Regions from separate parts of the Homo sapiens genome. Here regions 1 and 3 are each linked to region 2. The links come from fine-mapping of genetic effects on gene expression. A gene starts in region 2. Each other region holds a variant in brackets. All regions are shown on one strand. Distances are from middle to middle. Region 1 overlaps CACNA2D3 (calcium voltage-gated channel auxiliary subunit alpha2delta 3). Region 2 holds the start of CACNA2D3 (calcium voltage-gated channel auxiliary subunit alpha2delta 3). Region 3 overlaps LOC124909381 (a long non-coding RNA gene).

Evidence for each region. PIP is the estimated chance that this variant, and not a neighbour inherited with it, causes the effect. A credible set is the group of variants that fine-mapping cannot tell apart.
Region 1: its variant is the best candidate, but not a certain one, in a credible set for the expression of CACNA2D3 in whole blood (INTERVAL, PIP 0.57).
Region 3: its variant is the best candidate, but not a certain one, in a credible set for the expression of CACNA2D3 in skeletal muscle (GTEx, PIP 0.71).

The regions. Positions count from the first base shown.
Region 1 is chr3:54,960,642-54,971,121 of GRCh38, forward strand. CACNA2D3 (calcium voltage-gated channel auxiliary subunit alpha2delta 3) reads left to right here. Exons shown (of 38, transcript NM_018398.3): 28 at 7,809-7,870; 29 at 9,159-9,203. It also overlaps a transcript of LRTM1 not described here. Among named protein-coding and RNA genes, the nearest start is that of LRTM1, 38 kb to the left of the region's middle. The variant A/G (reference allele first, on the strand shown) is at 5,403.
Region 2 is chr3:54,117,482-54,127,961 of GRCh38, forward strand. It overlaps CACNA2D3 (calcium voltage-gated channel auxiliary subunit alpha2delta 3), which reads left to right and starts at 5,071. Exons shown (of 38, transcript NM_018398.3): 1 at 5,071-5,354; 2 at 6,032-6,113. The coding sequence starts at 5,233. LOC124909381 (a long non-coding RNA gene) reads right to left here and starts at 5,961. Exons shown (of 2, transcript XR_007095914.1): 1 at 5,576-5,961. RefSeq lists a silencer at 3,828-3,877.
Region 3 is chr3:54,093,701-54,104,180 of GRCh38, forward strand. The region is part of intron 1 of LOC124909381 (a long non-coding RNA gene); the gene reads right to left. Among named protein-coding and RNA genes, the nearest start is that of CACNA2D3, 24 kb to the right of the region's middle. The variant G/A (reference allele first, on the strand shown) is at 5,823.

The DNA of each region.
Region 1 (10,480 bases), 840 kb after region 2:
TGAATTTGCCAGCCTGATACCCAGGGGGACAAGAGTGCAGCTGCCTTCCCTTCCTTCCCCCTCATCTTCCCGAGGATACTCTGTTCTCAGTTTTGCCCAAATTAGTCCCAGGATTTCAGTTGTCTTTTTTGTCCAACATTCCATCATGCAATTCATTAACATCTTCACATGAAATATTTAACAGATGAGTTATGTCCTAATTCACATTGCAGTTTTAAATTGTTATTCATGTGGTAAGTCATTTATCTTGGACACCAACAGACCTCCGGAATGGGCTCACATTTGATGTAAAGAAGGTTGGAGTTATTTTCCTTGATGCTCCAGAACAGTGCCCTTTTTCCAAACCCTGGGTTAATCATGAAATATTCCCAAAAAATGACATTCAGATTCGTTGTTAGTTCTACTTGCAGTTAACTGTTTTGAAAACAAACAGAAGAAAACATTTAAACAAACGTGGCTTGGGTAATGGCTATTACAGTTGACCGTTAACTAAGGCAAGTTGGAATCCAAACATGCCAGGCCTTGTTACTATCACTGCTAGCAATCTTTGCCATGGTGCACAAAGAAATAAAAATTCAGAGACTGTCAAAGTGGAGGTGAGACTGGATAAGAGATATTAACCAAGCCATGTAAAAATACCCAGTGCCCTGATTAAGAAATATGACCAGCAAGGAAGCTGATGATCTGGATGAGCATTTATCTGTACAATTTGGGTTTTGGGAAAAGTCACTCTACTCCTAAGAGATGAAATATATGGGAAATCCTTAGCAGGTAATTTATTTATTATTAACTTATTGTAGTTGTATTCCCTCTAATAAAACTACAATTTTCTACTATATTCCTACCTATGGATTGGAATCTATTAGGAGAAAATCTTCTGTTTGTAGAACAAGCCAGTGCAAGTCAGCTCTTGGATCTGTTTCTCTGCCTGGACACCACAATGAAATGGTAATTGTCCACATTTGCAATTGTCCAGCAGTAGCCAGGTCATTGAGAAGTTTTGTGGGCAGGTGGCCTGATTGATGTGCACAGGAAGCTGATGGCACCAGTATCATGGACAGCAGTCTTCTTGGGTTCTGTACCCTGACCTGTCTAACCTTGTCCTGAGTATGCATGAATGATCACAATTCCAGAAGGGGTGGGTGACAGGACATCTTCTGTTTTCTTTTGCTTTTAACAGAGTGGTAGAAGCCGGGTAATTTGTAAAGAAAAGGAATTCACTTCTTAAAGCCTCTTCTCAGAGGCTGAGAAGTCCAAGTTCAAGGGGCCCCATGTGGTGAGGGACTTGCTGGTGGGGGCTCTGCAGAGTCCCAGGGAGGCACAGGGCATGGCATCGTGAGGGGACTGAGCGTGCTCACTCAGGTCTCTCTCCCTCTTCCTGTAAATCCACCAGTCCCACTCTCATGATAACTCATTAATCCATTAACCCATTAATCTATTAATAGATTAATCCATTCATGAGGACAGAGTCCTCGGGACCCAATCACCTCTTAAAAGTGCCACCTCTTAATACTGCTGCATTAGAGATCAAATTTTAACATGAGTTTCAGAGAGGACCAACATTCAAACCATAGCACAGGTTTTGAATGGTGGAGCACACCTTTCCTTAATCCTGAAGGAAAAAGATTAATTCTCTAAGAGCCTGCTTGGCTGATAGCATGATTTTGTAATGCATTTGCTCACTGATATAACACTCTAAGGAACATTCCTAGGAGTGGACAGTTTGCATTGGTCATAGATGAATTTTCTGCTCACTCTCAACATAATTGGCATGAAAGGCATATTAGCCATGAAACATAAGAATAAAGAATAAAAGCTCTAGGAGCAAGTCATAACATGAATGATGACAACACTATCAACTAGTTAGAGTATTTTAATACCCGTGATTTTATTTACTCTCACTGATTTTTGTCCCACAAAAATTCTGTTCAGAAGCCAGAGCCGGTGCAACTCTATTGGTGGAGACAGAGAGGTAAAGTGACATACCCAAGGGTACACAGCAGTGGTCTTAAAACGGGTTTGCAATCAGTTCTCGCAGCAAAACAACTCCTGATTGGAATTCACTGATGGTGGCAGGATTGTTTTTCTGCCTTTTGGATGAGCTCTCTATGTGTATGTGAATATATTGTATGACTGGAGGGCTGGGCAAATGGAAGTAGGGGTGTTTGGGTGAGCTTGTGTGCCAGGCATAGTGAGCACTATTTTACAAACCAGATCTGTGCCCCTCTAGTATGTTGCAAGTTGAGGCCAACCCCACAGGAAATTATTTCTAAATGAATACGATATGAGAAAAGTTGTTTTATTTCTAATTTTATATGTTTTATTTCTAATTTTATATTTTGTGAGTTTCAGATTACACTTGAATGCATGTCTATTAACATGATATGAGATGCATGCATGATTTCATCTTGAATGCATTTAAACATAATAGCACTGCAAATGTAATTTGTAGTCTCAAGTTTTATAAAGCAAAATAAATAAATCTGGAGGGTGGTTGTTGCATTGATTTCTTTAGGGTTCATTCAAACTCATTTCCAACTTCCCCTTGCAAGTCCAGGTTGTCTCACGCTGGCAGTCCTGTCTGATCTAAACCCCCTATACCTAAGTCATCTCATTTCTTCTACCTCTGGGGAGTGGTAGTATGGACGGGTTTGTGGAGAATTGTACCTTCCATCCTTAAGGAGTGCTAGGGTCCATTTCTTTTCTATGGTTCCTTCTGGGATCACTGGTCATCGTCCAGTAGAAGTCTCTGCAATGATGGAAATATTCTAGATCTGCATGGTCCAGTACCGTAGCCTCTAGCACCCTGTGGCTACGGAGCACTTGACATCTAACTAGTGCAACTAAGGAACTAAATTGTGAATATTATTTAATTTTAGTTAATTTTTATTTAAATAGCCACATGTAACTAATGGCCACTAATTTGGACAGCACAGGATCAGAGCATTCAAGGTCAGCTGCCTGTCCCTAGATTCAAGCATGCCGATCATTGGTATTCTGCAAAGCAAATGGTCTATGTGTTTTGGATGATGCCCTGCATTCGTTTCTGTCAGCTCTGGGGATGCTGAAGTGTGAATCTCTCTTCGGTGATTTGACTGCCCTCCCCAGGCCTGTACCCCTGGCGGTTGTGTCTCTCACATCTTTTTCTCAATACACCTATCACCCAGCACATACTGGGTTTCTGATAAACATGGGAGAAAGGAATGGAGGAAGGGAGGGTAAAAGTAGATAAGAAGGAAGTTAGACAGTTGGGAAAAGAGGAAGTCTGGAAGGAAGATACTTTGTTGAAGTTTCGATATCTGTAGTTAAGCCCTCTTAGAGTATTGAGAGGAGTTGTGAGAACAGTCACACAGATAGTTCAAAAGAGAGGTCAGTGCTTCAGATTCCTGAATATTTCACATGAAAGGATTCTGGGCTCTTTGAGATGGCAATTCTTATAACAATAATTTTGCTGTCTTGGTTTCCAAAGACCATCCCAGTATCTTGGGGTCGCTGTCCTAGGAGGCTCACCCCATATTGGCACATGGGGAAGGATCCTATGGGATAATATTTTCTGGATCGGTTGTGTTCCTGGGTGGTGAGTAAGATATCACCAGATGCAGTTGTGTAAAGGGACTTTGTCTCTATCCATGTGATGAAGATTCCCAGCAGGGAGGGAGCCCTGGGACATCTGTAATCAAATTGAAGTAAGGAGCACTGTGACCTCCGGGGAAATATGTTGATGATTTTCTGGACTGTCTAAAACATTACAAACCCCAGGAATGGTGATTTTTTTTTTTCTGTAACTCTCCTTGGGACTTGAGTTTCACAAAAGCATTTGCTGTCTTTGTTTTCCTTATTAAATTAGCAAGACTGACTTAAATCAATATACTGTTACTGCTTGAAATGTTGCTGAAAGAACAAAATAGACGGGCTTGACAAATGTCTCAGGTTCCATTTAGGTTATGTGGGGGCTGAAGGGAGAGAGTGGGACTCACTGAAGTAGTCGTGTTTTCTCTGATAAAGGTCAAGAAAAGAAAAATGTGGACCAAAACTAAGGAAAATAGTGAAAGGAAGCTACACTTCTGTTTGTGGCTTGTGGCAGGTGATATTTGTTTTTCTGAATAGAGTTGGCCATAGGATTCCCTTAAGCATTTTTGTTTATTTGCTTGTTTGTTGGGGGAGAGGGTTATTCTTATTTTTTTTTTTGTTGCCTTGTTTTTTGCACTTTAAATCATTTTCACGCTCAAGAAATAATGAGCTCAATCCCGTTACTCTCGATCCCTTACTCTCATTCTCCCATTTCCCATTTTATAGGCCCTTTCCCTAGCACTTCCTCTGCGAGCTTTCAGAGTGGGCTTTCTAAAAATATAAACCTGATCCTGCCACTTCGATACTAAAGACCTTCAATGGCACCAACGGCAGATGTCAGAATACTTTTTCTGTAAAGGACCAATAGTAAATAACTGAGGTTTTGTGGGCCATGCAATCTCAGTTAAAACTACTCAGCTCTGCTATTGGAGTCATAGACAGTGTGCAAACCAATTAGTGTGGCTGTGCTGCAAGAAAACTTTATTTACAAAAAGAGGCTGGATTTCACCATTGGACCAATCTCTGGCCTACGTACTCTTGAAGCTTTGGCCTGACATTCAAGACCTTTTGCCATTTGACCTCAGCCTGAACAACTGGGTCCCCGTTCCCATTCTTCTCAAGCCTCCAAACAAATGATGGTCTTTAAAAAGGTTCTCTCCCTTCCCCTCCCTTACTGTTTCCTCCATTTGGATTGCCATCTTCCCTGGCTTCTTACTGTTCTGTGAGTGGGCTCTCCATGCCTCACCTTACACAAAGCTCTCACCAGGCCAAGTCAGCCCCATTCTCTGCACGCTCCAGTTCTTTATGCCTCTAGTGTAGCTTTTACAATGGATCTACTCCTCAACTGGACGTGGAGGGAGCTTAGTACCCAGTGTAGAGCTTAGTACTCACTGAACAAATGGTCGTGAAGTTGATCCATCAATGAAATTGTGAGTCCCTTAATCATAGGAGAGTATATTAACTTATGGGTAAAAGAAAACACTGCAAACCCCAGATATGCCACAGGAAGCCAGGGGCCAGTGTTACTGGAAAGGGGATGAGGTCAGCTAGCCGGAACACAGCTAGGTCAAAACTAGCAGAACAATTGCAGCCAGGACTATCCAGGAGCCTTTGGGCAACAACCTCATGGTGCAGGCAGGGGTGTGAGTGAGGAGAGAGGGAAGCAGTTCTAGTTCAGGGCATCAGGACCAGGACGAGGATGCAGCCTGCTGGAGGGAGATCAGAGAGAAGCAGCCTGCATGATTAATGGGATGGAGGGACTGACTCATGAGGAAAGATGAAAGCGCCCCAAGGAGCTGGGGTAGAGGACCGACAGGGGCAGATGAGAACAG[A/G]CTGCAAGTATGTGAGATGGATAAACACCCAGCGGGGAGCAGCTGGCTTCATCAGGGAGGTGAAGATGAGGGCTCCATCAGAGAACGGGGGTGGGGGTCTCAGAAAGGGCATCAGGAGACTCATGGAAGCTCAAGAGATGACAGGTGGGCCCAGGACAGCTCTGGGCTGTTGGAGGGAGAAGCACCATGGAAAGGCTACCCTGGAGTGACTCTTTCAGGGAGTCAGACCCTGTTTTGCACCCTGCACCCTGGCCTGTCAGGCATTTGGAAGATGAGATTTATTTGAAATGCAGTCAACTACCATCAGACTCAAAATCAGCTTCTTTCAGGCATTCTCTGAAATGTTCTCCAATGCTGGGAAGAACAGCTTTTGTGTTGTGTAGTCTGGCCACGTGGCCCACATCACAGTAGGTCCCCAACAGCTGATTTACTAAAGCCATCCCCCACCTTGGCTGTGCGTGAGAATCATCTGGGACACTTTTAAAACATACCCAAGCCAGCCACATGGCTCACATCTGTAATCCCAGCACTTTGGGAGGTTGAGGCAGGCAGGTCACTTGAGCCCACGAGTTAGAGATCAGCCTGGCTAACATGGTGAAACTTCACCTCTACAGAAAATACAAAAATTAGCCAGGTGTGGTGGTGCACACCTGTAATCCCAGCTACTCGGGAGGCTGAGGCATGAGAATCACTTGAACCCGGGAAGCAGAGGTTGCAGTGAGCTGAGATCACACCACTGCACTCCAGCCTGGACAGCAGAGTGAGATTCTGTCTCAAACAAACAAACAAACAAACGATTCGCATAGGTGTTACTCTTCTATATTTCTCTCTAACTGCTGACTATAATATCACTTGAAAGTTTTTTTTAAAAAGCAAGCATTTACCTATGGGTCGTCTGTGTACTCAGCATCTTGCTGGAGGCAGGGGTCCAGCAGGGAGCAAGAACAGGTCCTCATTCTTGGGAAGGCTGTGGTCCAGAGAACGAAGGACACTTAAGGCAGAGCAGAATGAGCCTGGGCACCGACATGGTGCATTTCAGAGGCTTTTCACGTTCTGCATGTTGCAGCCGTGCACTGCTCTAGTCTTTATCCTAGAGTCGGAAATTCTAAGTGCAAACACAGATGGCAAATCTCTCCCAATGTACACACCCAGTTAACCTTTACTCTCAGGGCTGGCTTCAACAATTTCTTTAGGAAGTAGAAATGCCCTTGATAGTTATCAGGGTAACAACAGCCCAAGACCTTTATGAATCTCCAAGTTCCTGAAGCCAGCACAACAATGATTACCCAAATGGGAGGTCCAGTATAGTGGCACGCAAAATTTTTAGAGTATTTAAGTGATTTTTTTTCTTACAATTGTGTATTTCTTTTGATGGGTGTTCCAGTTTTATTTAGGTTGAATTACTGTAGGTCTTTAAGCAAAAGAAAGAAATGTGGAAGGACAATAAGAGTATTGGTGGTATGCAAATATGGTAAAAATGGGGAGGTTGTGTGCAACAGACTACAGTTTGCAAAACTGCACTGGGGTAAATGACGTGCTCCAGGGAATTCAGTATTCCCTGTAGTCTCATTCTTCTGAACGCCTCTCAAGTTTTCCCACCATCTGAGGAGCATTTTGCCCTTACCATTTTACTTCCTGAGATGGTTTCAGGTCTTTCAAGTGGTTTGGGCTTCATGGAGAAAAATAAGGTGAACTTCCTCATGTTATAGTTTTGAGGTTCCACTAAATTTCACTTCCCAAAGTTTCAAGTCACATTCTTAACCTCTTCTCTTTTTGGCTGTTTCTGTCACTAGAACTAGCATTCACAGTTGCTTTAGGAAGCTTTTCACAGACAAAGAAAAAATTACATAATTTTACCAGAGTTCCATGGGAGAGAAGAACCTTGAGATGTGGACTCTAGGAGGCCAGTTAAACTAAGACACATTATAGTAAAGTGACTCACTTCTGAATTCTAGCCTCATGACAAGTGCTTTTCAAATGTTACGTCTCAAAAACACATGCAGAGTACACATTTTAGACATGCAAGTTCAAACAGTAATAGCTGACAGGAACTGAAGCAATAGTGATCTTTTGAATTTTTTTTTTTCTTTCCTCTTCTCAGCTTGTGTTGGGGTGGGGGTAGGGGCAGTGGTGCAAGCATATGAATTTTAGAAATGCCGAAGTAACATGTCTCCAAAGAGCGATCTGCACTGTGCTGTTTGTTTTGTATCGAGAGTTCTGTGAGTGCAGGTAAACTTGAGAATTCTTTACCTGAAAGATAAAATGTTTTAGTTGTATGCTTCACTGTACATTTTATTTTATATGCTTATATCAGCTTCTTGCCATGACGGATAATTTTCAACGATAATCTTAAATAATTGTGTAAAGGGATCACTAATGCCTTGTTTTATTTATAATTTGTCCCAGCTGTAGGCATTCAGATGAAACTTGAATTTTTCCAAAGGAAGTTCTGGACTGCCAGCAGACAGGTAAGTTATAATCAGCATCTTGAAGCATTAGCGACACTGTTATTATACAGGTGTTCCCATTTGGGTACCTGGAGCCTGAAAGTGCCAGATTTCCGATGAATGTTTGTAAAATCAACTGCCGGCTGCTCAGATTACCTTTCATTTCACTGCAAAATAAAGGGCTGTCAGCATGTTAGACACCACATGCTGAGCAAAGCAGGGAATTTGCTCCTAGGAACAGTTTTAATTGTGGGATCAAGATAGTGACCTTCCAAAGGAGTTTTTCTTTTAAGTATTGGGGCCTTTTGTGAGATTTTCATTCTGACTTTCTCCTAATCCTGTGGTCGTGCCTGGTTACTTACTTGTGAATCTCATTATCAAAATCTAGAAACCCTTTACGTAACTAGTTTCTCCAAAACATGTATCTGACTTCTTTGTTCACAGGGTCTACCTTGGAGAATCTGGGAACATTGTTTTCTTTTCGCTATGCTCTCTGTACTAAGTCATCTCAGTGGTATTTGTTGAGTAATTTGGTAGAAAGGGCCACTGATAAGTTGCTTCCATCTGACCAAGAATAAATGTTAGAATGGCTTATCATCCTTTAAATTAAGATACTTTAGGAAGCTATAAACTAAGGAGATGGACAGGGGTTTTTTAAAGTCACTGAGAATTAATGAATTTTAAATTAATTACATAATTGTATTTTTAGTTACCAAAAGATTTGAGATCTTAAAAAGATATCATTACTGTTTAATGACAACATAAAGTAGACTTTTTTTTTTTTTTTTTGAGATAGTCTTGCTCTGTCTCCCAGGCTGGAGTGCAGTGGTGCGATCTCGACTCACTGCACCCTCCACCTCCCTGGTTCAAGTGATTCTCCTGCCTCAGCCTCCTGAGTAGCTGGGATTACAGGTGCCTGCCACCACACTAGGGTAATTTTTGTATGTTTTAGTAGAGATGGGATTTCGCCATGTGGCCAGGCTGGTCTCGAACTCCTGACCTCAAGTGATCTGCCCTCCTTGGCCTCCCAAAGTGCAGGGATTACAGGTGTGAGCCACTGTGCCTGCCCCACCCCGCTCAGTTGTTTCATAGATCTTTTATTTTACATTACTACTTGGAATTGATACTGATTCCAGAGATAGTAGACAAGACACATCATGGAGCATTCCTTTTCAATGAAATTGGGTATTTGAATTCTAGCCCATGACTTGGATAGCTTGTCCTTAAGTAGCTCAGTGGCAGCCACAGCAGGCACTGGGATGCCCAAGTAACATAGTAACACATTTCCCTCCACTTTTTGCCTTCACAGTGTGCTTCCCTGGATGGCAAATGCTCCATCAGCTGTGATGATGAGGTAAGACGGCCTCCTGGTCCTGTTTCTACCCCTGTGGATAGAAGGTGACAGATGGTGCTTTATGACCGAGGGAATGCCCTTATAAACAAGGCCAGGTTGACGCATTGTACTGGGCCAATCTAAAAAAAAAAAAATCATTTGCTTTATTTGCTTTGTTTCTTTTTTTTTGTTCCCCACCTCCCATCAGTTTATGACAGCTGGAAATGTGCTTTAAATGTCTCATGGATAGCACTATTGGAATTTTGACATTTTGTAGGAAATAATACAAACTCCTAACTCCTACTGTTTGAAGCTCACATTACAATTCTCAAACCTTTTTCTACATGCCTTAATCTCTTTCCATCCTTGCAACAACCGGTGAAATAGGTAGGACTTGTTGACCCATCTTGCAGATAAGAAAAACTGAGCATCAGAGAAATTAAGTGATTCAGCTAATTTCATGTAATAAGCAAACAAAAAACCTAGGAGTTAAAAACTTTGAAACTCAAAATGTTTCTTTGTAGCATACTGCTTCTCTCCTACAAATCTTTTCTTTTTTCTTTTCTTTCTCCTCTTCTGTTCTCTCTCTCTCTCTCCGTCTCCCTCCTCTCCTCCCCTCCCCTCCCCTCCTCTCCTCCCCTCCGTTCCTCACCCCTCTCCTCCCTTCCCCTCCCCTCCCCTCCTCTCCCCTCCCCTCCTCTCCTATCCTTTCTTCTCCTCTCCTCCCCTCCGTTCCTCACCCCTCTCCTCCCTTCCCCTCCCCTCCTCTCCTCTCCCCTCCCCTCTCCTCTGCTCTCCTCTCCTCTCCTCTTTTTCTCTCTCTCTGCCTTTTGGGAGGAGGGATTTTAATCCTACACATGCGCAATGGAAGAAGAAACTATGCCACTACCCAAAGTGTTTCCATCTGCCTTATGTTTTTATACCTTGCCATCCCATACCCTCTGCCCCACGTTTTGGAGCAGGCAGAAGCATGGTGGCCTTTTCACTTCTCCTGAGGTAGCCTTTCTCTCTCTGCATCAGTGAAACAGCAGTCAATATGTAAACTAGACCTTATAAATAGTCACATATTTATATTCCTTCTGCTTATCATGAGGACTTAAGAAATCCTAACCAAACAATTTCAACCCAGAAAACATAGATTAGGAAGTAGATTTCAAAAAGGTGGACAAAGGAAAAACAAGTAAGGAAATATAAAAGGAAGTCCAGGATGAAGTTAAAACAAAATGCTCGGTCCCAGAGGATCTGGCTGCTGGTTAGAAAATCATAATCATTGTATGAGTCACAGTATCAAAAAAAAA
Region 2 (10,480 bases):
ATATGGAGTCAAAGGAGATCATTTTGGAACTTTAAGGTTTAATGACTGCTCTACTGCATTTCAAACTTGCCTGGGGCCTGTAACCCCTTTGTTTTGGCCAATTTCTCTCATTTGGAATGCATATATTTACCTAATGCCTGTACCCCCACTGTATCTAGGAAGTAACTAACTTGCTTTTGATTTTACAGGCTCATAGGCATAAGGGACTTGCCTTGTCTCAGATGAGACTTTGGACTTGAACTTTTGGGTTAATGCTGGAATGAGTTAAGACTTTGGGGGAATGTTGGAAAGGCATGACTGCATTTTGAAATGTGAAGACATGCGATTTTGGAGGGGCCAGGGGCAGAATAATATGGTTTGGCTCTTATGTCCCCACCCAAATCTCACTTTGAATTATAATAATCCCCACCTGTCAAGGACAGGACCAGGTGGAGGTAATTAGATTATGGGGGTGGTTCCCCCATGCAGTTCTCGTGATAATGAGTGAATCCCACAAGATCTGATGGTTTTATAAGCATCTGGCATTTCCCCTGCTTGCACACATTCTCTCTCCTGCTGCCCTGTGAAGAGGTGCCTTCTGCTATGATTCTAAGTTTCCTGAGGTCTCCCCAGACATGTGGAACTGTGAATCAATTAAACCTCTTTTCTTTACGAATTAACCAGTCTTGGGCATTTCTTCATGGCAGCATGAGAACAGACTAATACAGTAACTGTAAGATAAATTTCCAGAAGAGGAATTGCTGGGTTAAATGTGAAAGCATTTGCCATTTTCCTCCTTTTGAGTGAACCATTTTGCTTCCTCATCAGCAACATCTCAGCCTTTTAGCTGGTATTCCTTTCACAGTAGATATTTACCCAGATAGACTCAACACCTCCTTTACTATCCTGACATGAAATTCTGAGACAATATAACCTAATCAAAGTCAGAATTTTAAAAAGACAGTATGATGCCTTATTTGGCAACAGCAAAGAGAAGTAAAATAAAAGTAATTTATAATAAAATAAGAAGTATTTAAATGAAATGCTCGCACAAGATGTAACTACAAGATCTAATGACATTATTAGCTGTTTGTGCTTATGTGCAGACTAACTGTGAATGCCACACCCCAAATGCAGACTGATACAGGTGTGTGTGTTGGTAACTCAGGATCTGTGAGCACAGTTGCTGTTGGAGATTTTCCAAAATGAAAAACAACAACAACAAATCAAACAAACCTCAAGCAACCAAACAACTTCTTGGTAAGGTTCTGAACAAAACAGAAGACAACCATGCCTTTATTTATATTGTAATTGCATTCCTGGAAAATATGGTGTTTATTAAAGCCATGCAAAAACTCCTCTTAATTTATGTACAAAATGGCTTTTAATGCTAGATTCAGATGCTTATAAGTGGGGTTTTTCTCTTACCTGAATGTTCAGTGGGGTACTTGAAAGTCCTTGCATGGGCCTGTTCTGCCCCTATCAACTAAATGCCAGTAGGACCCCAAGTCATGACAAACAGAAAAAATCCCAACTAGCCCAGGCATAGTGGCTCACACCTGTAATCCCAGCACTTTGGGAGGCTGAGGCAGGCACATCACTTGAGATCAGGAGTTCAAGACCAGCCTGGCCAACATGGTGAAACCCTGTCTCTACTAAAAATAGAAAAATTAGCCAGGCATGGTGGCAGGCCCCTGTAATCCCAGCTACCTGGGAGGCTGAGGCATGAGAGTCACTTGAACCTGGGAGGTGGAGGTTGCAGTGAGCCGAGATTGTGCCACTGCACTTCAGCCTGGGCAACAAAGCAAGACTCCGTCTCAAAAAAAAAAAAAAAAGTCCCAGCTGTTCAAAATGCCCCCAAGGGCAATGCCCTCTTGCGCACTGAGAACCACTGCTCTAGGGGCTCCTCCAGAATCCCTTCCATATGCTGGATCAGGTGAATGCTCCTAAAACATTCACTTCTGTGTCATCATCTTTCACTTCTGTTCAAACACCTCCAGCAGCTCCTCACTGTTGCAGGACAAAGTGCGACATCCTCAGCTAGGTGGGATGGAGTGCATAGGTCTACCAATGAAAGTTTTATTTCTCTGGATTCCATGCTTCAACTGAGAGTTGGGTGTTGAAATATAAGCTTTTGGGTGAAAATGGCAAGTAGTGCCCAATGCCCTGGTACTGCATTTGGCTTACTGGAAGGTGCTCCTGGTCCCTTATTCTCATGTAGCTGCAGGAACTCCCTGGTTCAAAGTGAGGAGATTCTCTTTAAGGGGTGTGTGCCTTTGGACAAGTGGCTAAATCCTTCTGGGCCTCAAGTTTCCTCTCTGTTAAAATAAGACTGCAAGACTAGATTGCTTACAGATCCCTTTCAGCACTGATTTTTGTGATTCTGGAAAGAATATTACAGTGTGTAAGTGGTAAGACCCCAAATCTTTGGACACTTTGAGTTCTGAGTTTATTAGTATTAGTTTAAATATTTTTTATTTTTGAGATACTAGGATATGGTTAGCGGGATCCATCTTAAATGTAACGTGCATAATGTTCTGCCTAAGATGGCCTGCGTTACAAATGCTCAAAACACTCTCCTCCTGGGACTGTGACTTCCTGTGCCTGGCCTCTCATCGCTACTCTCTAGTTGCCCGAGACAACTGCGAAATTCACCTGTGTCAGGCTGGCAACGCATAGTGACTTTATTACGAAATGTCTTCATGACCTTGGTGCCCAGGTGGTCTTCAGTATAGTCCAGCAGTCAAGCAGTTGCTTAAATATGACTTAAGCTGTATGACTTTGCCGTGCCTCGATGTTCTCATCAGTTAATAGGCACAACAATAGTATGGGTGTCACAGGTACTTTTTCTTCATACACAGTATTGTTTTTCCCTTGTCAAAGTGTATAATTGTGCATTTACCATTATGGTTTTTGCAGTAAAGCCTGTCCTCTTCGTAGTGTATAAACTCGGTGAGGGCAGAGAGCCTGCTTTGTTCACTACTGGCTTCCCAGCATGTCCTACTGTACCTATCAATAGAGGCTGATTGACAGTTATTGACTACATGAATGAGTGAAGGCATGAAGGGCGTCATCATATAGATACCATGTGGGAAACGGATGGTCTTACTAAGAGCTAGCATGCACTCACTCACTGGTTCATTCACTATGCTTTCATTTAGGAAGAACGATCCCGCGTTCTGATAGGAAAACACATTTTCTTCTAACCCCCAATTTGAGGGTCAACTCCTGGGACCCCTTGCCTCGGGGGTCAGGCCGCGCTTGGCTCGGTTTGGAAAGGGCTGGCACGCTTCCTCAGGCGGAGGGTATGCACAGAAGCGGAGAATTCATTATAACCGGTTAGTCATCCGTAGAGGCTGTAGACACTGCCCGCGGGCGGGGCGCACCTGGCGCTCCTGGAGAGGGGCCTGTTCCTTGCGTTGCCCCCCAAGGTGGGAGCGCGACCTGCCAGAGCCCAGGGGAGCTCGGGTCTGCCCGCACTCGGGAAAAGCACTAAGAGCCTCTCGGTAGCAGTCCTTCTCCCTCGCTGCCAACTCTGAGATCAAGCCCAACATCTGCAGGGGTAACTTTTTCCAGGGACTACTGGAAAGGAGAGCCGGCCTGGCTCCTAGCCGGACACCACCTGGCGGAAGCTGGAGCCCGCCCTTACTTCCCTGCAACCTGAGGATGCTGAGGCCAAGGGCGGGTGACGGGGCAGAAAGCAAAGCCCTGGTTGCAGAAAGGCATGCAAATATGAACCCAGGTGTCTGGTGCGCCGGGAGCCCCGGCGACGTTAGGAGCGCACTCCTTGCTGGGGTCACCGGAGTTGCGCTTGGCCGGGCAAGGATGACTCAGCCTCACTCCGGTCGGTCTTTACCGCCAGCCTGCGCGAGGGCTCCACAAAGTTCCCAATCACACCCCATACCTCGCACGGGGGAGAGGGGTTCTGCAAGCTGGGTCCCGGGGTGGGGGCAGCGGCGAGAGAGGCGGGGAGAAGCCTGGTTCCCAGAACGCGCAGGGGCTTCTCCGGCTTCCTTTCTCCTCGCCCCTGAGGGCGGCGAGAAGGCGCCTCCTCCGGCGCTCACTGCCTCCTGCCCAGTGCGGTGGGCGCCGGAGTGGGGAGCAGGCAATCCCCCAGGCTCGGAGAAATCTTTTATCCCGAAATCCAGGGTGTCCCCCGGTCAGGATCGACTCGGCGCCGCGTTGGCTTCCTCGCTCAACCCTGACATCCCGGTCCCCACCAGTCACCGCAGCCGGGCGGACTCCGAAGGCAGCGGCCGCTGGGGAGCCCCGGGGCCTGGGTCGGGCGCGCAGGGGGCCGCTGCGCTGCGGCCGGATGCCGGGAGCCCCGCGCTGGTGCGCCCAAGCCGTGGTGGCAGCACCGCCCTCCGTGCTTTCCCCTGTCGGGCGCCGCGGCCGGAGGAGCAGCTGCGGGCGGTCACGCAGCGCTGCCCTAGCCAGAGCCCCGAGCTCCCACCCAGTCCCATCCCCAGCCCGATCCGCCCCGCGTGCGATCCCGCCTGCCGCCGCGAGCCTGTGCTCCTTTCTGAGATTTCTGCTTCTTCCCCAGCTCCCTCCCCGCAGGAGAATCGCGCGGCGGGGGCGGAGGGCGCGCCCCCTTTAGGTTCCGCGGCCCCCGACCCCGCCCGGCCCAGGGGCGGAGCGGGCATGCTACGCCCTCTCCTAGCAGCCGCCCGCAAAGTGCGGAGCGCCGCGCCCTGCCCTCGGCTTCCCTCCCGCGCCCCCAACCCCCACCCTGGCTAGGGTCGCCCGGCCCGGGGCCAGCCCCAGAGTCGCGCCCGCGGTGGCGGACTGCGGAGTTGTAAAGAACTCAGCGGCCGCAGTAGCCCGGGTGGGGCAGGGCGCGCTCCGCCGCGGCCAAGGACACTGGAGTTTCCGAGTCCCCGCCCGCGCGGCGCCTCCTGCCCCGCCGCCCTCCCGCCGCGGCCCGCCGGACTCCCCGGGGCCGCCGAGGCGGGGCCGGGCGGCTGCTGCTGCTAGAGGCGCGTCTCGCTGCCTCCTCCCCCGCCCGCCTCCCTCCCCACCTCTCCTCCCTCCCTCCCCACCTCTCCTCCCTCCCTCTCCTCTCCGCCCTCCCCGCCCCCCCCACCCGCTCCTTTTTCTGCTCCCCAAGTGAGCCGGGCGCGCGAGAGGCAGGCGGGGCGGCGCGGAGCGGAGCAGGCAGCCCCGCGCGCTCGCCCACCGCCCGCTCCGCGCAGCTCCCCGCGGCCGCTCTCGTCGCCGCCGCAGCGGGCGCGTCGGAGGGAGCCCAGCATGGCCGGGCCGGGCTCGCCGCGCCGCGCGTCCCGGGGGGCCTCGGCGCTTCTCGCTGCCGCGCTTCTCTACGCCGCGCTGGGGGACGTGGTGCGCTCGGAGCAGCAGATACCGCTCTCCGTGTAAGTGCCGGCTCCTGCGCCGCCCGGGGAGGGGACCTTGCCGCCTGCGACCCACTGTGCCCAAGTTTGGGCGCCTGCAGGTGCGGCTGGGCAGGACCCGCCGCGGGCGTCGGCCTCGCCGCTCGCACCTGCCTTTCGGGACCCGCGTCGGGCGGCGAGGCCGGGGTGGGATGCTCTGGCCCCTGCCCGCAGGTTGCCGAGTGAGATCTGGAGAGGCTCACCTCAAGTGACGGCACCAACTTTGGAGCCTGGTTACCGAATCCAACTTCCATGGGCCGCTGAATTTCCCCCCTCTTTGCTCTACTGCCGCCCCACTTCTTTTTTTGGGGGGGGGATGGGTGGATTTCTTCTGACTGCTATTTGCCAGGTGATGCCCAGTTTGGGGGGTCGAGTCCTCGGGCAGTGGTTCGAATGAAACTCAGTGGTCTTTTTAGAGAGCCTGGGAGACTTTGCGCATTCTTAACTCCGCGACCCCCCTCGGGCCCCCTCCCGCGCTGCGCTTTGCAGTTTTGGTGCTGGCAGTTTCTACCAAGCCGCTTTTTCTATCTTTTCTTCTTTTAAAACATGTTACATCGCACTGCTCCTTCAGCCATAGTCCCATGTGTGCGTGTGCGTGTGCGTGCGTGTTGACTGTGACACGGGTGTTACATATCTTCCTGTGCCCCTTCTCCCTGTAGGGTGAAGCTCTGGGCCTCGGCTTTTGGTGGGGAGATAAAATCCATTGCTGCTAAGTACTCCGGTTCCCAGCTTCTGCAAAAGGTAAGGTTTCTGTGGTGGCAGGAAGCGATGATTTTTCCGGCACAGAAAATGGAGGCAGATTTAGTTTTCCAAACAAACGTGAGCCCCGAGCAGCATCAGTTATCGGAGGACTCTCTGATCCCCGGGTTTCTTGGCATTGTACTATGCAGTGACTTCTTCCTACCAACCGGTTATTTTTAGATGACACTTGATTCTAACCACAAAGAAAAGCAGGATACTCACTCGCACTGTCCTGGCTGGGGCTCGGAAACTGAGTGTTTTTGCATGGCTCTCGTCTCCGTGTCGGTATTGCTGTTTCAGTGCCAGAGCAGATGCTCCTCGGGCCAAAAAATGCTAACTTCATCCAAGGGGCAGACTCAGTGCCTATTTTGTGATGCCTTTCACCTTGCGTTGGAGGCGTGGGGTTCAGTGTATCAGAGAAAGACGCTGCACTATTGTTTGTCATCCCTGCAGTTGTACAATCCCATTATTCCCCAATCATCTAGACCCAGGGCTAGGATGCATTACATCATTGCAGATAAGGAGAATGAATGTGGTTATCTTTCCACTCAGCTGCACTGCCGGGTAATAACCTATGAGAGTAGTCCACAAACTTAAGAAATGGGTCTGCATCCATGTAATTCTGGAGAGTAATGAGAATGGAGAATTGATTATTAGGTTCTTATCACAAGCTGCATCAATTTTAATTCAAATAGGCAGCATTTTAAGCATAAGCTTAAAATTACATTGTGAGATAAATGGTCCTTCGTTCTCCCCTTCAGGAAATAAAGAAAAAAAAATGGGTCTGGGAGGAGAGATTAGAGGGGTTCAAAGAATTTCAAGTTAGCAGATCAACAGGATTAATCAAAGTATTCTCTTGATGATAGAAAATAAAATTGGCCTTTAGGGAATAATTCTCTGAAAATGGGTACAAACAGCTTAAATTGTTAAGTTAACTTTTAAACATTTTAAAATATGATTTTTGGGCCAATGTACCATATGTGTTATGCATGCTGCCTGGTAACCAAGTACGTATTTTATTTATGGCATTCCCCTTCAGAGAGTAGCATTTTTGGGGACAGTATATGAAACAGTTTGCCACATGAAATCCAAATATCGTAATAAAGCGTTGGCCCACCATGGAATGACAAAAGTTATTATGGTTTAAAAATCGCCAATAGCCTTATTCATTGAAACCTTATTCATTGAAAGATTGCTTGCTCAACTCTGTTGTTTGGGAAGGTGTTCTTGAATTATAGGCAGTTGGTAAACAGTTGAGGCTACGAAATGCCCTCGTGGAAGATGAGAATTTACATACCTGTGGCCCACCTCGGCACTTAAAGGAATTGCATAGGAATTGCCTCTTTCCCTAGTATTCTTTTAATCTGGACCAATCTGTCTCCTGCTTTGGCATTTTGCCCACTTGTCAGATGTTTGATGTGATGAATTCTGGACTGTAGCATTGCCTTTATATTTTTCTTATGCTTTTAAAGAAGATAACATTTTGTATAACTTTAAAGAAGTATTTCTCATCTGCACGTTGTAGTTGTAGCAACTCTAAAAGAATCCCTTCAGAGCCTGTTAATATTTTTTGGTTGTGCTTTCATATCTTTTATCCCACATTTTCTAGGAACACATTAAATATGTTTTTTTCTTTCTCTTTGAAGTTACACACACACACACACACACACACACACACACTGCACAAAACTCCGTCAACCTTATTATTTGCTACTCTATAACAGCAAATTGGAAAAGGCTGAAATGCTTCTCTTACCTTCTCATCAGCATCCTTTCTGATATTGAATTCACTAGCTTTGCTTTGCTTTTGTCATGTTTGCAGCTTGACAATTGTGTAATTATTTCCAGCTGTTTATGGCTTTGTTATCATTTCTTGCTGCTGCCTGGCATTTTGTAATCTGATGCGAGGGAAAGGTGAGGTGTTGCTTGGCATTGCGTTCCAGGGTGGGTGTCCACCCTAGTCCTTGGTTTGGAATCGTCTGCTCTGGGGGTCCTGAAATACTCACGGCTTTGGGTTACTTGGCAGAGACTTTCATAAGTGGTGGGGGAGCATGTTAGACAACTTGGGGAGCATTTTTCAGCTATGTTTTGGCTGTTTTGGTCCACTATCCCCGCAAATGCTTTTGTATTTTTAAAATTAGCAAAGAACATTGGTTTAGAGAGTTCAGAGTATGAATGGGAGTAGATCTGAGTGCTCAGAGTGTAGGAGACATAACATCATTTGGAAAAACAAGTGGATAATTGCTTCTCTTTTGCTAATTTTCAAGTTTCTGTCCATTTGCATGAGGAATTACTCCTCTAAGTCAGAGCTCTGTGCACCCTGCCATCATATCACTGTGTCCTTAACAATTAAGATGCTTTCAAAATGAGTTAGAAAATTTGGCTGGAAAATGCATTAACACTGTATTAAGGGGACTCAAAGATGACAATACTATGTTGTATAATAGAGTGTAATTGCTCTTTTTAAGGCATGGATTTTTAAACTTGATTTTCAGTTAAGTAAGGTGTGCTGTATACCACCATATAATTTTATGTATTTTATGTAGTTTCACTAATTGACACTTCATGTTGTGAATCAATATAGTGTGTTCATTTTTAGAATGGAAGTTTAGTCATTTTTGCACTAAAACATACACTTTACAAAGTAGTTATTATGAATATAAGTTAAATAATAATTGGCCATGCATCTATTTTAAGGTGTTTAGTGACTGGGAAAACTGCCATTTTGGTAACATGTTTTTATTAGGTGATATAATTTGAGGTAGCAGTATTGTTACTGACTTCATCAATGTAAACACAAACATTTAGCAATGTACCTTGTTATGGCTTCAGAAATAAGAGTATTTTATCAGTTGTTTCTATGTTTAATACCATGGGTTTTGCCGCTTTAGCCTATTATAATATATTAGGTATTCAATGCCAGATAGCCCCTATATTTTTTTCTTCTGTCTTTACTGAGCACAGGAATAGCAACCTGTTAGGTCCTTAGAAATAGGATAGTTTTGATTTTATAAAACGCAGTAAGCCATCTTTTAGGAAATTTGTCTGTTTTCAGTACAGAATGGAAGATTGTGGGACTTGTCTGTGGGCGCTGGAGTTCATCTTGAGGGGTTTTAGATGCTGTGAGAGAATAGCAGGCCCCTGGAGGGATGGTGCTGGTGCGCCGCTGTATGCCTGTGTGCTGCCTTGCTAAGCTGGCAGATACTGCAGGGGTTTCCGTTCACTTCAACTTTTAATTAAGTTTCTGATTTGATATATCCATGCCAGTCAGTATTCAGCTGCCTTTATCTTGCTTCATTTTCCCCGAAGAATGGACTTTGTTTGGTTCTTTTGGGGAGGCATAGTTTCATTACCGCTGTATTTTGGGATTCAGTGAGAAGCATTCTAGTAGGTCCGGGAACCTAGGCTGTTAAACTCAGTCTCCACACCTCTAACAATCACAATCAAAGGCATTAAACTGGCTGATTCTCATTTCATCCTCCTCAGGGAGAATTGGATAGGAGCTGGGTTTTTCATTCTATTTAGACCTGCATTCGGGGAACCAATGTTCACGGGAATGAAGGGTTCCAGTTACATTTTCCAGAATCATGATGATAAATACACAACGGAAATACAGGTAATGTGTGTCTCTGCCAGTAACGCTGGAACAGAATTGACATTTACCTTGGACGCCTCATGGAGCACTTACCAAACACGCACATCTTGGAATGCACAATCTGTTTTTTACATTATCAACTATTTATTGAGAGGGCAGCCTTAATATATAAAGTTGATATCTCTTTCCACAGGACAGAGTCAGCAAAGTAAAAGGTTGGTGCTTTAAGCCATTTTTATAATTATGACTTTTCATCAATGTGAAAATCGGTGGACTTTTAAATAACTGAATAGGTGTATTCACTTATCAGGAATTAGGTAGCAGTGCCTTGCTGCTCGTGGGAAGCCCAGCACTCTTCAGATTGCTCTTGTGGGGGAGGCGCTGTTTTGCTAACATTTTGTGTTGAATAAACACAGTTATTTGCCATCCTGAATGATAAATGCGTTCAACCTATGCTGCGGATGCTTTAATTCATAGCATTACTTTAAATACTGGACTTTTCCTTAGCAGGTTATTTTTAAAAGCTTGAAATCTCTGAAGTGACAGTTTTTAATCATTCAGGGCAGTTTATTGGTCTCATTAACACAATCACCCAGACAGTAGCAGAGCAGGGCAAACCAATGAGCATTCAGTTTGTGCCTCTTATGCATATAGCTCATTGCACTTGTAGAGTTACTCATGACCACTTGCTAACTTTCGGTCTGAGCCTTTTTTGCTCATTTTTTTTTTCTTTTCCTTTAACTTGTTTTTTTTCTCCTTAAAATTTCTTTTC
Region 3 (10,480 bases), 24 kb before region 2:
GCAACTAAAGAGCAGAGAAGAACTGTAAAGGTTTAGAAGGTTTTTGGAGTCACATTACTCTGCCAGCCACTCTCAATTCTTCCTTTATGTTAAAGACTTAAAAACTAAACTTTACACATAGTGCATGGGGAAGATGGCTTACTCAAGACTGCTGCCAGGACAACCTCCCAGCAGTGCTGTGCCCAGAGAAAAAGTGCTGGCTCGAAAGCAGAAGAGTGAAAGCATAGGACTTGGCTTTAAATTAAAATAAGGTATTTCAGGTGTTGTTTTTTTATCCTATCTGATGATTCCTTGCATTGACTGAATTTTTTTTTACTGACCTAGTGCATCCAGTTCTATCAGATAAGAGAGCTTCTGTTACAACATTAGATAGGTGCCTGCACACTCATACACACAAGCATGCTGGGTGAAGCAGGCTACAAGCCTACTCATGAAATATGAATGAATTTTTGTAAAAAGTGCATATTGCTAGAAAAAATTGGGAATACCAATAGTAGTTATATTTAAGTAGGGAGCTTATGTATATTTTCTATGATACGAATATATTGCTTTTTAAATAAGGCAACAAAAGAAAGTCATCATCATCAACATCATAAAAGAATAATTGCTAGCTATCCTTCAAGGTCAGCATCCAAAAATTTCCTCCCTGAAGTTTTTCTCAATTCACATGAAGTTTCATAAATCACTTATTCCTTTATGCTCCTATAGCTTCTTATTTGTACTTAATTAGTTCTGATATTTAGCATGGCCAATTGTGTCTTTCCCTTTCATTTGAGAGCAGGGACCGTGACTTATAAATATTCATATTTCATAACACCACACACAGTTCCCACCATTTAGGAGGTAATTGTCAAAAGAGTGAATGAATGAATTGTGTTCTGGTGTAGTCACAAATATATCAGATAGGTTTTTATTTTTAAGGCTCTTTCTTCGTGTCTTTGGTAAGCACTTTAAAAAAATCATACTTTGGCCTATGTGATCCAGATCATGTGTTTTTACATCTTATATAATCTGAAAGCAAAGGCCATACACCTAGCCCTCAAGCAGAGCCTTTCTGTACAAAATGAGAACAGCTTTCTGAAAAACAAACTTGGCGCCGGGTGTGTAGGCACCACACACATGTTGGCCAGGCCCTAGAAGAATCCGCATAGCAGAGTTCCCTGGACACTCCTGTCCTGTTCTGCATCTGGACTACCTGTGAGCAAGCTTCCTCATTGTGCAGGGGAGCATTTGTGAAGTGTTTGCAAGTATTTTTCATCTCCTGCAAGCAGACTGGGCTATGTCCTGATTTTGTTAGTATGATTGCTGAAAATGGAGTGGTCTATTAAAAAGTAATGGTCACTGTCTGACGGATTTGCTTCTTGCAACATTAGTGTCATGGTGATGGATCAGGAGAATCTCCAAAGTGGAAAGCATGTTTCCACAAATATTTTGTATAAACATAAATTCACTTGCCAACATGACTCATTTCCCTTTTATTTTTTAAGTATTATCCATAATATTTGCCTTGCATCTTTTTCAGCACACGTGTCCCTCTCCGGAAGGCTCTGATAAGTGATTCTAGCAGGGCCAGAGGAAGATTGGTGTTGTCTTGTGCCCATATTTACAAAGTTTTCCCTCTGTTTCTGAGCTGCTTGCAGGAGGGGAGGAGAAGGCAAGAACCACAAGGCAGGACCAAGCAACCTCGCTGGGCTAGGAAAGCCCTGAGAGGAATCTCTTTTTACTAGAAAGGTGAATCTGCTTAGTGATTTGAAATCTCCCTGCCTTCATTTCATCTTTCACTGAAAAATTAAAGGACTGTTTTTTATGTTGCCTTTTGACATCTAGAAGAACAAAATCAAGAAATGCATGATTTCTCCCACTAAGGCTGGACTCAACAGCTGACATAGCTGAACTATGATGTGTTTCCAGGGATTGGGACTAAAACACTCTTTCCATTAAGGTCATTCCATTAAGGGCTTTAGAAAAATGCATTTAGTTGGAGACAAGGCTTTCCCGCACAAGAGAGGAAATATATTAGGAAGCTTCCCCAATAGGCCAACAAACCCAATGGACCCAGAGACCTGAGAGACTGGGATACCATTGGGGAAGGACCAAAGCTAGTAAAAAGTATTAGTGACCCAAGCATTCTAATAGACAGAGGGGACACACACTCATGGCCCCTTTTCGATATTTCTGACTTCACTTATCTCTGGCTCTATGGATACCCATTTATCTATTGGTTTTGCTGCCCAGGATTCATTCCCCCTTCTGCTGGTAGCTGCTTTTGCTTTTCCATGGGGAAGGCTTTGTTCATGACTCTTAGATTTAAGTTGGATGAAGTTGACTTCGCCTCTGACCTTAGGAGTGGGAATGTGGCCCAAACCTGCCAATGAAAGCCTCACCCTTTCTAGACCCCACTGACCAGTACAGAAATGGGTCAGCAGCTGACCCAGTTGGCAGATGCTCAATTATTGCATGTTGGATGATTTCAGAAATTTTCCTTCTATACATGAAGGACTTTCTTGGTTCCATCTTATAAAAATCTCCCTAGCAACATTCCTTCCATTAGGCTTAATATTTCTTTCTTTTATTATTGTTGTTCAACGTCAGATAATTTGCAATGCAGTCGAATTAACATACACACAATATTGTAGCAGCCTGGGGGGTTAAAGATAGTTAATCAGCTGGGAGAATAATTCATTGTCTAGCATAATACTCAGAGAAATGTGAAGGTGGGGTGCTTTTGGTTGAGCATTCTAAGTTAAATGAATCTTCTAACAAATGAGACCTGCAAACTGGAGTCCAATGGATTGCTTCAACCAGATCTGGTTAGCAGTAAATGTCATTAGCTTAAAATGTTTTCTCTTACCTCTGTTGTCTGTGATAAGATGAGCCTCCTAAAAGGCAAAGTGCTGTTCTTTCACATTTTAACTCCTCCTGGGGGTGTTAAAGCCAGCTGAAGTCAGGCTTCCTGCAAGCTACATTAAGCTTTTGTTCCTCCAGGCCAGAAGGGAAATTGTGATGTCTCTTCCAGGTTGAGAGGCTCCAAAGGGAAGGCGGCTTTCTAAAATCAGGGCCTGCCTTCCTTTCTTTCTTTCTTTCTTTCTTTCTTTCTTTCTTTCTTTCTTTCTTTCTTTCTTTCTTTCTTTCTTTCTTTCTTTCTCTCTCTTTCTTTCTTTCCTTTTTCTTTCTTTTTTCTTCCTTTCCTTTACCCTTTCATTCCTTCCTTCCTTCTTTCTCTCTCTCCTTCCTTCTTTCTCTTCCTTCCTTCTTTCTCTCTCTCTTTCCTTCCTTCCTTCTTTCTCTTCTTTCTTTCTTTCTTTCTCTTTCTTTCTTTCTTTTTCTTTCTCTCTCTCTCTTTCTTTCTTTCGTTTTTTGTTTCTTTCAACGGGGTCACCCTCTGTCACCCAGGCTGGAGTGCAGTGGTATAATCATAGCTCGCTGCAGACTCAAATTCCTGGGTTCAAGTGATTCTCTTGCCTCAGCCTCCAGAGGAGGTGGGATTACAGGCATGAGCCACTGTACCTAGCTCTTAAAATATGCTAGTTTTATGGAATTTTTCTAATATTCCTACTTGCCCCGCCCCTCCACACTATAGTATTGATGTTCAAGATGGAGATTTGCAAGATTTTGATATTAAAAAATGAGTCTGATTTTCTTTTTTGAGATGATTATTTTTACAGTGAGTTCTCTGGCGGTGTTGTCAAATCATTCTTTAAATTTCCAGGAAACACTTTATGAAACAGTTAACCAAGTACAAGTCAATAACATTAAAAAGCAAAAGAAGAAGAAGAAAGAAAAAAGTAGTGGTGATGATGGAAACTATTCTAGATTTTAAAAAGACTAGATTTTAGAAATGAAATGGTCAGTCGGACTTTATATGGATCCTAGTTCAAACAAATAACTATAAAATACATTTTGGGCAGAAATGGGGGAAATTTGAATATGGTCTAAGAATTAGGTGATATTAAGAAATTGTTGTTAATTTTGTTAGGTGTAAAAATGATTTTGTGGCTATAAGATATCCTTATATTTTAGAAATGCTTGCTAAAGTATTTAGGGATGAAATGTTATAATCTGTATTTTTTTTAAAGACTAAGCAAATATGACAAAATGTAAGTCTACATGATGGTTATACAGAGTTAAATAGACAATCTTCTATTTCTATGCACATTTGAAGATTTTATAATACAAAGGCTTTTTGAGAAGGACATAGAAATTGCCAGTGGATTTCTTTACTACGTCTGTTTACTTTTTGTTTTTTTTTTATTTTTTATTTTTTAGAGGCAGAGCCTTGCTATGTTGTCCAGGCTGAACTTGAACTCCTGGGCTCAAGCAATCCTCCTGCCTTAGCCACTGAAGTAACTGGGATTACAGGCATGCACCACCTCCCCAGCTTCTACATCTATTTTAAGGAACCAATATGGGCACAATGTCTGATGAAAACTGTGGAAGAAAACTCCAAATATAAGTTAGGTAGATTTAAATGAGCTTTAAAAAATATTATCAGCTACTAGAATATAAAATGATGCAGCATTTATATGTAAAAAGTTCATGAAGCTTTCTTAATTCATTTATCCCCACCCATGTTCTGTGGGTGGGTATAAAAGAATAATAAAAGCATTGCCTGTTGAAGGAATAAAATTTTGACTCATAAATTGAACTTCATGAAAATTATTTAAAGTACTTCTAGATATAATAGTTTCGCCAGAAATAGTTCTCATTTGCATGATAGCATTTCCTATAAATGAGCAGAAGTTACGTGTCCATTGTAAAAAAAAATACAGATAATCCATTAGGAGAAAAAAAGGCCCATAATTCCACCCTGTTATTAATATGTTTGTATAGTTCTGTCCAGTACTTTCTTTGAGCATAGGTGTGCATCTCTCTTTTTTCCTCCTCTCTCCCTTCTTTCTTTGTTCCCTTTTTTCACACCACCATTAAATGTGAAAATAAAACCAGAAATAGGAAAAAGTGGCTACACCTAAGAGTGAAATCCACTTGTGATGAAAGCACTCCACTCCCAGAGTAAAGCAGTCTTTACTTTGGTAATTTATGTTTTCTTTTAACAGTCCTATGACTTTCATTTTTATTTTTTAATTTATGATTGACACATAATAATTGTACATATTTATGGGGTACAATGTGATGTTTTGATACATGTATAATTGTGTAATGATGACAGTTTAACATCTGTTGTCTTAAACATGTATTATTTCTTTGTGATAAGAACATTCAAAAACCTCTTTTCTAGCTATTTTGAAATGCACAATACAATGTTGTTAACTCTAGTGATCTTTCTATGCAACAGACCACCAGAACTTATTCCTCCTATGTAGCTATAGCTTTGTACCCACTGACCAATCTCTCACCTTCCCCGGCTTCTCCCCATCCCCCCATCCTCTGCTAACCACTATTCTGCTTTCCACTTCTATAAGAACAACTTTTTAGACTCCACGTATAAGTGAGACCTTGTGGGACTTATTTTTCTATGCCTAGCTTATTTAGTTTAAAAATGTTTTCCAGGTTCATCCATGTTGCCACAAATGACAGGATTTCATTTTGTTATTATAGCTGAATAGTATTCCATTGTGTGTGTGTGTGTGTGTAAACTATAATATGTATATAAACGTACCATAGTTTCTTTATCTATGCTTCTGTTGATGGACATTTAAGTAGATTCCATATATCAGCTAGTGTGAATAGTGCTGCAATGAACAAAGGAGTTCAGATACCTGTTCAATATACTGATTACATTTCTTTTGGATGTATACCCTGTAGTGGGATTGCTGGATCATATGGTAGTTCTATTTTTAATTTTTTTTTTTCTTAGAGATATA[G/A]TCCTACTCTGTCACCCAGGCTGGAGTGCAGTGGCTATTCACAGGCACTAGCTGTCCTAGGCTCAAGCTGTCCTCCTGCCTCAGCCGGCTGAGTAGCTAGAATTACAGGCCCATGCCACTGTGCCCTGCTGTTATTTTTAATTTTTTGAGGAACTGCCATACTGCTTTCTTCCTAATTTGTTGAGAGTTTTTATTATGAAGGGATGTTGAATTTATGGTATTTTAAATATATATTTTTAAGATCTCTTATATATGAGGGTCATTAGCCCTTTGAGAGCTGAGTTGCAAATATATTCCCCAGTCTGCCAGTTACTATTTTAAGTGTTTTACAACTTTATTATTGCACGTGGTCACATTTATGAAGGCTTCATATAATTACAGATAGTTATAATAAGACAATTATCACAATGCAAAGGAATCGATCAGCACCTCTTGAAAATGATATTATTATTGCTGGGCACAAATATATAGAGATAAATCTAATCATAACTTTAAAAAATCAAGGCATAATTTTCACATAATAAAATGCACATGTCTAAAGTATTCAGTTTTTACAATTTTGGCAGGGGTATTCACTTGTGCAAAAACCACCTAAACCAAAATTTGGAACATTTGTATAACCCCAGAAAGTGCCCTTTCTAGTCAGTTACCCAATGCCTCTCAACTGGGCAAGCATTTTCTAATTTGCCACCATTAGTTTTTGTTTGTTTCTGGACTTCACATATTTTAGAATCATTATAGTATATACTGTTTTGTACCCTGCTTCTTTCATTCAAGCATAATGTTTTTGAGATTCATTCATGTTGTTTGTTGGATTCATTCATGTGTTAACAGTTCATTTTCAGTGCTGAATAGTATTCTATTACATGAATATACCACTATATGTTTATCCAAAGACTTGTTAATGGACAGTTGGATTGTCTTCAGTTAGGGACTAGGAGCATTTGTGTATAACTTGTAGGCATGTGTTTTCATTTTTCCTGAGTAAATACCTAGGAATTTCTGGATTATAGGGTAGGTATATGAGTATAAGAAATTGCTCTAGTGTTCCTCAAGATGGTTGTACTCTTTTACACTCCCATTGGTGGTACATGAGAGTTCTAATTGCTCCACATCCTCACAACACTTGGTATTGTCCAGCTTTTTAATTTTAACTATTCTAGGGGTGTGTAGTGATAACTCATTGTGGATTTAAATTCATATTTTCCTCTTAAGTAATGATGATGAGAATCATTTCATGCACTTTTGTTTTTTTGCCATAGATTTTCATTTGTGAAGTGTTTGTTCAATCTTTTGTCCATTTGTAAATCGTGTATTTTCTTACTATTGAGTTGTAGGAGTTCTTAATATGTTCTAGATACAAGTCTTTTATTAAATATTGTTTTATTTTTATTTTCTTACAGTGTTTTTCAAAGAACAGATGTTTTTAATTTTGATAAAGTGCAAATTATCAGTATCTTTTTTTTGGTTAGTTTTTATCATATCTAGTCTGAGAAATCTTTGCCTATACTAGGGTGATGAAGATATTTCTCTCATGTTTTCTTCTAAAAGTTTTATAGCTTCAGCTTTTAAGCTAATATCTATAATCCATTTCATTTACTTTCTGTGGACAGTCTCATGCAAGGGTTGAGGTTCATTTTTTTTTATACAGATATACAATTGTACAAAGATTATTCTTTCTTCGTTGAATTACCTTGGACTCTTTGTTCAAAATCAATTGACCAGGTAAGTATGGGTCTGTTTCTGGGATCTCCATTCATTTTATTTATCTTTATGTCTATGCCTAAATCAATACATTATCTTGATGATTGTAGCATTATAATATGTTTTAGAGTTGAATCATGTGTCTTCCAACTTTGTTCTTTTTCAAGATCATTTTGTCTACTCTAGGTTCTTTATATTTCCCTATGCATTTTAGAATCACCTTGTCAACTTACACAAAAATGACTCCTGGGATTTTGCTTGGGCTTATGTTGAATTAAATTGGGAAAATGGACATCTTAACAATATTGATGATATATCTCTATTTATTAGGACTTACTTAATTTATCCCAAGAATGTTTTGTTGTTTTCAGTATAAAAGTTTTGTACATCTTAGATTTATTCCTACCTGTTTGGTGTCTGTTGCTAATATTACGCTATTTTTAAATTTCACTTTTTAATATGATTTGGATTTGTATCTATGTCCAAATCTCATGTTGAATTGTAATCCTCAGTGTTGGAGGATGGGTTGGGCGGGAGGTGATTGGATCGTGGGGGTCTATTTCCCCCATGCTGTTCTCATGATAGTGAGTGAATTCTCATGAGATCTGGTTATTTAAAAGTGTGTAGCACCTCTCCTTTTGCTATTCTCTGCCTTCTCTGGCCGTATAACACATGTCTGCTTGCCCTTTGCCCTCTGCCATGATTCTAAGTTTCTTGAGGCCTTCCCAGCCATGTTTCCTGTGTATCCTGCAGAACTGTGAGTCAATTAAATCTCTTTTCTTTATAAATTACCCAGTTTCAGGTACCTTTTCTTTTTTTTGAGACGGAATCTCGCTCTGTCGTCCAGGCTGGAGTGCAGTGGCGCCATCTCGGCTCACTGAAAGCTCCACTTCTCGGGTTCACGCCATTCTCCTGCCTCAGCCTCCCGAGTAGCTGGGACTACATGCGCATGCCACCACGCCCGGCTAATTTTTTGTATTTTTAGTAGAGACAGGGTTTCACCATGTTAGCCAAGATGGTCTCGATCTCCTGACCTCGTGATCCGCCCGCCTCGGCCGCCCAAAGTGCTGGGATTACAGGCATGAGCCACCAGGCCCGGCCTCAGGTAGCTTTTTATAGCAATGTGAGAACGGACTAATACACTTTGTTTGTTACAAATATATAGAAGTTCAGTTGCTTTTTATATATTGACTTTGTATCTGTGACCTCGCTAAGTTCACTTATTAGTTCTAGTAGATTTTTTAAAATATACATTTTTTTTGTAGATTCTGCAGAGTTTTTCTATGTACACAATCATGTCATCATGATTTTCTATGTACATAATCATGTCAGCAAATAATGAAAATTATATTTCTTCCTTTCCAATCTTTTCCTTGCCATATTGAACTAGTTAAGATTTCCAGTCCAGAGTTAAATACAAGTGGGCATATTGCCTTATTCCCAGTTGTAGGGGGAAATTATTCAGTGTTTCACCATTAATATGATGCTATCTGTAGGTGCTTTTGGCAGATGATCTTTATCAAACTGAGGAAGTTCGCTTCTATTCCTAGTTTTAAGCTATTTTTAAAAATCTTAAATTTGCATTGAATTTTTCGATTTTATTTTGCATATATTAAGAGGAGTGCACTTTTTTTTCCCTCTCTCCTTTATTCTGTTAATGTGGTGAATTACATTGATTTTTCACAGGATGAAACAATTTATGTTTCTATTATTTTTCAAAAGATAAAATCACTCTTGATCATATTACCATTTTTTATATATTGCTGATTCAACTTGCTAATATTTTGTTCAGGGTTTTTGCATTTGTGTTCATAAGGGATATTTATCTGTAATTTTTTTTATTTTAATGATCTTGTCAGGTTTTTGTATCAGAGTTATGCTGGTCTCATCAAATGAGGCTGGAATTGTTTCTTCCTCCTCTATTTTCTTAAAGTGTTTGTGTCTATAATTATTTATTTCTTGAATCTTTATAGCATTTACTGCGAAGCTACATGAACCTAGAGGTTTTTATTTGTTTTATTAAAATTTAATGTATTTTATAGATACAGGGTTTTTATATTTTCTTTTTCTTCTTGTTTCTATTTTGTATGAAGTTGTGTTTTTCTTTCTTTCTTTTTTTTTTTTTTTGAGACAGAGTCTCACTCTGTTGCCTAGGATGGAGTGCAGTGGCGCAATCTCGGCTCACTGCAACCTCTGCCTCCCGGGTTCAAGCGATTATCCTGCCTCAGCCTCTTGAGTAGCTGGGATTACAGGCGCACACCACCACAGCCGGCTAATTTTTGTATTTTTAGTAGAGACGGGGTTTCACCATGTTGGTCAGGCTGGTCTCGAGCTCCTGACCTTGTGATCTGCCTGCCTTGGCCTACCAAAGTGCTGGGATTACAGGTGTGAGCTACCGCGCCTGGCCGAAGTTGTGTTTTTCAAGGAATTTGTCCATTTAATTTACATTGTCAAATTTGGTGGCATAAAGTTTTTCATAATATCCACTTACCGTTTTTTTTTTTTTTTGTTTTTGTTTTTTTTGAGACAGAGTCTCACACTGTCGTCCAGGCTGGAGTGCAGTGGCATGATCTCAGATCACTGCAACCTCCACCTCCCAGGTTCAAGTGATTCTCCTGCCTCAGCCTCCCAAGTAGCTAGGATTACAGGCACCCGCCACCAGGCCGGGCTTTTTTTTTTTTTATTTTTAGTAGAGACAGGGTTTCACTATGTTGGCCAGGCTGGCCTCGAACTCCTGACCTAGTGATCTGCCTGCCTTGGCCTCCCAAAGTGCTGTGATTACAGGCGTGAGCCACTGTGCTCAGCCCAATTACCATTCTTTTAATGTCTATAGGCTTCATAGGGATTTCTCTCAGCTCTCTCAGAACTTCTACCCTACCTTTAGACTTAGGAGAGTAGCTAAAGTTTTCATGATGAAGGCCTGGAGTCCTTTAAAGTAGGGGTCTCCAACCCCC